Homo sapiens: one gene and its partner. The protein of the gene in region 1 purifies or fractionates together with the protein of each later gene. This does not show direct contact. Each region holds a gene or a part of one and is shown on either strand. Other genes may lie near its edges.

Region 1 (3,826 bases):
GGGAATGAGTCCTAAGGCTGCCTTGCTCACCCCACAGCCAGGTGCTCTGTATAAGAGAACTCTTTTACCTGCACAACTGAGGCAGGAGGTGGGACTGGACTCCAGAGGCAGGGCTTTGACACCAGACCAGATTGAGGACTAGCTAAAATACGGCCTGGGCAAAAGCAGTTTTCAAACACACCCAGCAGTGTGGCATGTCAATTTACCTTTGCAATGGCAACACCCAGGAGTTACTGCCCCTTCTATGGCAGTAACCCAATGATTTAAAAGTTACTACCCCTTCCCTAGAAATTTCTGCATAAATGCCCCTTAATCTCCAGGCAATTAAAAGTGGGTATAAATGTGACTGCAAAACTGCCCTGAGCTGCTACTCTCTGCCTCTGGGGTAGCCCTGCTCTGCAGGAGCAGTCATGGAGCTGTACATCACCTGTTCACCAAAGCTGTTTGCTTCAACCTCAAGCTTGCCCTTGAATTTTTTCCTGGGCAAAGCCAAGAACCCTCATGGGCTAAGCTCCACTTTGGGGCTCACCTGCTCTGCATCACAAGCATCCCTCTGCTGGGTGCATTCTAATCCTCATTTTATAGATGAGGAAACTAAGGCTCAGCTCTGAAAATCCCTTGCTTAAGTTGCCACTGCCTGTATGGAAGAGCCAGGATTCAAAATAAGATGTCCCTGATTGCAGGTTTCATGCATGTCCTTGCAGAAATAACTTACTGCCTGAAGCCAGAAAACTTAGGTCCTACCTGTGGTCCTGCCTTTGAATACCTGTGTGACCTGCAACCTTTATTTTACTGTTTATAAAATAGGGATGTTAGCAGAGGAGAGATTAAATGTGATGGCCTTAAGTGAGATCATGCCAGGTACATTGTAAAATGTTGTAAAAGTTTAAGGAGGCATACACACAGATGGTCCCTGACTTACGAAGATTCCACTAAGCTGTATGATGGGGCGAAAGCCTTAGGCATTCATTAGAAACCACACTTCGAGAAGCCATACAACCACTCTGTGTTTCACTTTCAATTCAGTATTTAATACATTGCAAGAGACATTCAACACTTAATTATAAAATAGGTCTGCATCAGATGATTTTGCCCAACTGTAGGCTAATGTAAGTGTTCTGAGCTCCTTTAAGGTAGACTGGGCTAAGCTACGATGCCCTTTGGTAGGTTGGGTGTGTTGAATGCATTTTTGACTTATGATATTTTCAATTTTGGGGGACGTAGCCCCATTGTAAGTCAAGGAAAACCTGTATATATCTCCAAGGCCATGCTGGTAGGTGGTGGCAGAATATAGTGCACTGTGATCATTTCCATTCTGACGTGCTCGGCATCCCCGGTCTGCCGCTCACTCGCTCAGTTTCCTCATCTGTAAAATGAGTACATCTTAGGATGCATTTCATAATGTTGTCATGAGGCTGCATGGATAGAGTGTGTGGCACAGTGTCTGGCATTCAGTAGGTGCTAAATGAATGGCAGATGCCTTCCTGCCCCCCTGTCTCCAACCATAAGGGAACTCACCTTCTAGCCATTTTAAGAACTTAGGTTTTATAAATGACTATGACTATGGGAGTTCTCCCCACCCCTATCACAAATCATACTAAAAAGATCCCATATCATGTATGATTTTAATTTTTTTATCTTATTTTTCTTTTTTGGAGACAGGGTCTCTATCTGTTGCTCAGGCTGGAGTGCGGTGCTGCAATCATAGCTCAAGGTAACCTCAAACTCCTGGACTTTAGGGATCCTCCTGCCTCAGCCTCCCAAGTACGGAGAAATTAAATTTCTTTTTAAAAAGTAGCTGAGTGTGGTGGCATATACCTGCATTCCTAGTGTGGTGGCTCATACCTGTAATCCTAGCACTTTGGGAGGCCGAGGCAGGCAGATCACTTGAGCTCAGGAATTTGAGACCAGACTGGGCAACATGGCAAACCCCACCTCTACAAAAAAGTACAAGAAAATTTGCCAGGCCTGGTGGCACGTGCCTGTAGTCCCAGCTACTTGGGGGACTAAGGTGGGAGAATCAGTTGAGCCCAGGAGGTTGAGGCTGCAGTGACCCAGGATCACACTGCTGCACTCCAGCCTGGGTTTTTGTTTGTTTGTTTTTGTTTGTTTGTTTGTTTGTTTGTTTTTGTAGAGGCACGGTTTTGAACTCCTGGCCTCAAGTGATCCTCCCACTTTGGCCTCCCAAAGCACTGGGATTACCGGTGTGAGCCAATGCATGTGGCCCATGAGATTTTTAATATTGCTTTTGAAATGAATTGTTGATTTTGATGACTTACTTGATATTTGTAATTTTTGTCTTTCCTGCACTTTTAGAGTCAATGCATTTTTTTCCAAGTCTCAGATATTTCTGTGGGCCTTGCAGAGCTATGAGGCCTTGGGCCCTATGTCTGTTGTCCCTAGTGAGCATAAAGGCCTGGTGATCCCCTTTGGTGAAGGAGGAGGCGGGCCAGGACACTTTTTGCCTGCCCAGGGACGCGCTGTGCCCACCAGTCCTCCTCTTAGAGATGGTCATCTGGGGCAGACAGGCTCTATCTTCATCTTGTTTCCCTTCAGATGTCCTGCCTGCCCTGCCCCTGCACTTTACCTGTGGACAGTAGCCAAGGACACGCTGGGGCTGGCTGGGTAGAACGTGGCCACTCCCCACCTTGTCCTGTCTCTCATGGTGAGAGGGGGCCTTGTAGAACCCCCCAGGAACCAAATGTGGAGTAACCACTGCTTCCCATTTATGAAATCATCTCACATTTCTCATTTTAATTCTCACGAGGGCCCCAAGGGGTAGGGGGCGCTGTTATCTTGATTTTACAGAGGAGGAAACGGGCCCAGGGGAAGGTTCCGCTGTTCACACAGCTATGGGGTGGTGCAGTAGGACTCCCTCCCAGGTCTGTGGCCTCAGCTACTCACTGTACTCAATACCAAATTTATTTATCTTCTCAGTAATAAATGAATAATAATGATAGCTGAGATTGGTGTACCTTTCTATAAAACTCAAGTTATAGATGAATACTGTCTTACTGTAAAAGGTCCAAGCAGTGCGAATGTAGAAAGCCTCTTAACTTTAACAAGATCCCCAGTGAAGCATCTGAACAGTAACATTTGAGAAGTTCTGGTCTAAAGGGTAAAGCATTAAAGTACCCAGGCGCCCACACCTCCCCAGTCTCACTCCTGGCCCAAGGGGTAATTGCAGGTAACGGTATGGTGCGTTGGGATTGTCCTCTATGAGCCCTTTCTCCTTCACTATCTTATTTGATGCTCACTGAGAGGCAGGCCAGATGTCAACATCCTCTAGCTCAGTGAGGCCTGGTGGCTTGCCCAAAGCCCCTAGGCAAACACATGGAAGAGGCTGGATTAGAAACCAGATCTCCCACCTCCCCATCCATGGTCCTGACATGCTAATTAGAGCTTAATTATTTTGATGTAGGGCCTGGAAGCTGATGGATCCCATATTCTTATGGAAAGCATGTATTTATTATTACAGCCACCTTCTGGGCGGCGGGGGGTTCCAAGTCAACAGGCATGACGACATTGTGTCTCAGCTTTGGGGTCAGAGAGGTCTGGGTTTGAGCCTTAGTTTGCTTATCTATGCAGTGGGCATAAGAATCCCTATCTCACAGACTGGCTGCCAGGATGAAATAAGACCAGTGTATGAAAGTCTGGGCACCTATCCAACACTGTCTGAGTGCCTACAATTCTAACTGGCCTCCCCACAGCCTTGTTCATTCATCGAATGTGCATTTGCACGTCTTCCACGTCCCAGGCACCCTTCTAGGCACTGAGGACATAGAGGTAAACAAGACGGGCTTGGTGCTCTCATGGAACTGACATT
Region 2 (3,826 bases), on another chromosome or scaffold:
CTTCCACAAAGCCGTTCTTGAATCATTTTCTAGAAGTATTCTTTCCATTTCATTTATGCAAGACAGAAGGCTTCTGAGGAAAAGAATGGAAATTAAGTTTAGTGGAAAGAGACAGCATGATGCAGAGGGAAGAAAGCCCTGAAAACAGCTACTCCAGCCACTTACTTCTTTGTACCTTGGACAAGGTCTCAATCATCTTAATGCTCTCAATTTCCAGATTAATAAAATGAGGATAATGTTAACCTATTATAGGGTTGTGAAAATTAAATGAAATAGAGGATGCTGTATTGTCAGTACTAAAACTTCCACGATATTTCACCAATCCTTTTATTCTAGAAGGAGGGTGCAGTGGCAAAGGAAGACCAGTGGACTCAGAAGATAAAAGTTCGTGTCTCATTTCTGCTGTTTCTTGGCTGGATGATCCCTGAATTGCCAATTAAAGTCTTGAAACTTCAGTTTTCTGATGGGAAAAAATGAGAATAATAAAGACTACCTTATGGGGTTGCTGTGTAGATTTAATGAGATAATATATCTGAGAGTGCTTTATAAAGTGCAATAAAATATTAATTATCATATTATCAACATATATCTCTCATCTTTCTTCTAGACTGTATATTTCGTGAGGACAAGATCTACATTTGATTTGTCTTTAAATACACTCATGCTGAATGATTTAATTAAGAATCTCTGTATTATGGAGTGACATTGCACCACAAAATTCTGCCCATAAAAGGTGAGTCAAAAATCTTCAAAAGAAGCCGCACCTTCTGATGTACAGAACAAAAAGAAGTTGTCACAGGAGATAGCAGATGCTGGAAATCCTGATACTCGCTCTGGGTGGTGTTGACTTCCTACTGAAGGACACAGAGAAAGCCAGATGCAAGTCTGACATGGCTAATTGGGAGGTGTGTGGTCCTCTTGGAGCCTTTTCTTGAGATGTGACAGAGTGCCTGCCAAGACTAATCAAACCCAACTGCTACCCACTTCTGCTGAATCATATGGGGCTGCATTGCAGCATCTGAAGGAACCTGGGATTTATCTCTCATGATGTTGAAGCCCTAGATAGGAAATGGAAAGTCTGGGAACACAGGTGGTGTTTTCATTTCTCTCTGCATTCGAAGGCTATAACTTTGGAAAGGACGGAGGAAGGGAGATGAAAGTAAATGGTGTTAGAGAACAGGATTTCTTTTTTCTAGATCAAGGGTAACAATACCTTGTTGTTGGGCCAAACACAAGATTCAGGTTACTTAGACTTACTGGGCCAGAGGTGTTCTGACTCAATCAAAAAGAATTAAAACTGAAATTAATTTAAAATTCAAAAAGATGGTATAGTAAACAATTATGACATAGATGGAAGAATTAGTGGAGGGATTTCTAGTAATTCTAAGGAGAAAAACAATAGAAAAGCAATAAGGAATTAGAGTCAAGTCCCCAGGTGTCCACACAACAATGCAGTGAATGTGAATAATTAATGAGGATAAATTAATATTTAAACATAGCCATAAATGTGCATTCCGAAGAATCATGTAGATCCAATGCAATGAAAGATTCCTGGCTAGAATATAGCATTGAGAAGAGAAGGGAATATTATAGAAAGGAAGATGCATCAGACACATACAAAAATATGAGACTTGAAAAGATCAATAGTTAAAGAAATAAACCTAAGTATTTGAATTTAGGCTCAGAAACTGACTGCACAAAAATAAATTAAGAATGTTCTAGTTTAAGAGATTTTCAAATAAAAAGGAACTGAGGATTTTGATTCTATGACAAGGTCCAGATAAGTCTGTGGATGCCAGAGGCAAATGCGGTCATAAGCTGGGTGTCATATCTCATGTCTCCTACGCTCTGCACTGGTATGATCTTATCTGTAGTATTTTGCCCAACTCTGGACACCGCATTTAAGAGTGTCCCAGAAAAATGTCTGAAGGAGTATGAGCACTAGGAATGATGACAGGTTTAGAAACCATGTTATATGGAAAACAGTTAAAGGAACTGTGGACATTTATTCCAAGGAACAACAAAAAAAAGTAACTTAGGAGCCACATGATGCTGCCTTGTCTATGTGAAGGGCTGTCATTAGGCTGGAGAATTAGGACTTCGTGTGGTTGCAGAGGAAGGAACTCTAACCGGTGATTGTGGGATTCCAGAGAAACAGATTTGGATGAATACAAATAGGGCTTTCTAAGAGTGTCAGTGTCTTGTTAGTAGGGGGACCTCCTTGATATTAGGAAGTTACCCTGCAGAAGTGAGAGAACCACTCTGCAAAGGAAGAAAGCTGAATCTCGAAGCCCCTTTTCAACTCTATTAGCCTATGTCCCTGTGACCAGATAAGGGAAATAAAGGAAGTAGATGAATTAAAACTAACTCCTAGGTGTGGGGGCTGCATGCTTTGGAGGAGGTGGTATTACTCACAAAGAGACAGGTAAATGGGGAAGAGGAGCCTTTGGGAGGGTAGATGGTGAGGCTGAGTTTGAGAAAATGGCAGATGCTCAAATGGTTTCAAAATTATCAGTTTAAGTAGCTTTGAATCCAGTTAACTTGGTTCTTTTCTTTGGATTTGGCACTTAAAAGCCTCCCTGGTTATGTTACTTAGTTTCATGAGTTATGAAGGTGAAGAGAAAGGAGCAGGAGAAAGCTAGTATTTAAGAGTAAAAGCAGGAGTCATTACTAGGCCATATATAATCCAATTGAAATTTCAGAGCAGGGTAGTTATTATTTTGTTCATTTTGCAGATGAAGAAATTAAAGTTAGAGAAGTTACTAATTTGTCTAATTCAAAGTACCGGTAGGTAGAAATAGGATTCAAACCTATTTCATTTAAAAAAATAATATCCTGTACAAAGGGAATACATATGCAAGTCTATCGGCAAACAAATTTGAATGTGTCACCATTACCAGCAAAATAAATAAAAGTGTTTTAATAGTAAGTATACAAGTATAAAGGAGAGCTCTTTGGACTTAGCAGATGCACACAAAATGCATTTGGAACTACATGATAGGAATCATTCAAATCATGGATTCTAAGTACTGAAAAACAGGATGTAACTAAAACTTTTAGCATAATAGAAATAAAAAATAGAATATTTTACAGTCTACTGCTTTTTTTTATAAAGGAATAGATAAGAACAGAAAAAAGACTTTCTGATCAAGGAAAAGTATGCTCATTTTTATTCCATAAAATAGTAAATATTCATATCCCCAATTTGTATATTTATAAATTAATAAACTGTCATTTATCTGAATAAAGCTCAAATGACTAGATTTTGTTTTACGGTGAAGCAGACATATTTACTTATGAAGATGGCCTTCAAATACCCTAAGATATAAATTATTGAAGGAAAACTTCAGTTGCATTTAATGTAATATGTGTATATTTTATATATATATATGTATACTTCTTGAGCATTTTAAAATCTATTTAACTTGATGTAGATACCAAACCTTCACTTAATTTTATCTCCAAACCACATTATATGTATTCTGGAGAAAGAGGACTTGCCATCTTTGACTAAGGGTCAACAGCTAAAGAGAAAGTAAAAAACAATATTTGATCCTTGATTCCAGTGATATTTTGGGGTCATTCATATTCATTTGCAATGATAAATTAGCTAGTTAACCTTAAAGTATATCTGGGTAAATATAACCTGTGACCAGATAAGGGAAATAAAGGAAGCAGATGAATCAAAACTAACTCCCAGGTGTTGGGGCTACATAAGTTATAGCTATTTGGTATAATGTCCTAGTTTTATTGAAAAATTTCTATTTTCAGGTTCATCACTTAGATATTACATATACCTAAAAAAGATTAAAGATAAAATAAAGAG

The links.
Region 2: the proteins of SMPDL3B (region 1) and IFIH1 fractionate together in Homo sapiens (co-fractionation; one large-scale study listed by BioGRID). This does not show direct contact.

What each region holds. Positions count from the first base shown.
Region 1 is NC_000001.11:27,937,714-27,941,539, forward strand, and holds part of SMPDL3B (acid sphingomyelinase-like phosphodiesterase 3b isoform 1 precursor), read left to right. Parts: intron 1-3,826. UniProt on the Homo sapiens protein: Lipid-modulating phosphodiesterase. Active on the surface of macrophages and dendritic cells and strongly influences macrophage lipid composition and membrane fluidity. Acts as a negative regulator of Toll-like receptor signaling.
Region 2 is NC_000002.12:162,284,184-162,288,009, forward strand, and holds part of IFIH1 (interferon-induced helicase C domain-containing protein 1), read right to left. Parts: intron 1-3,826.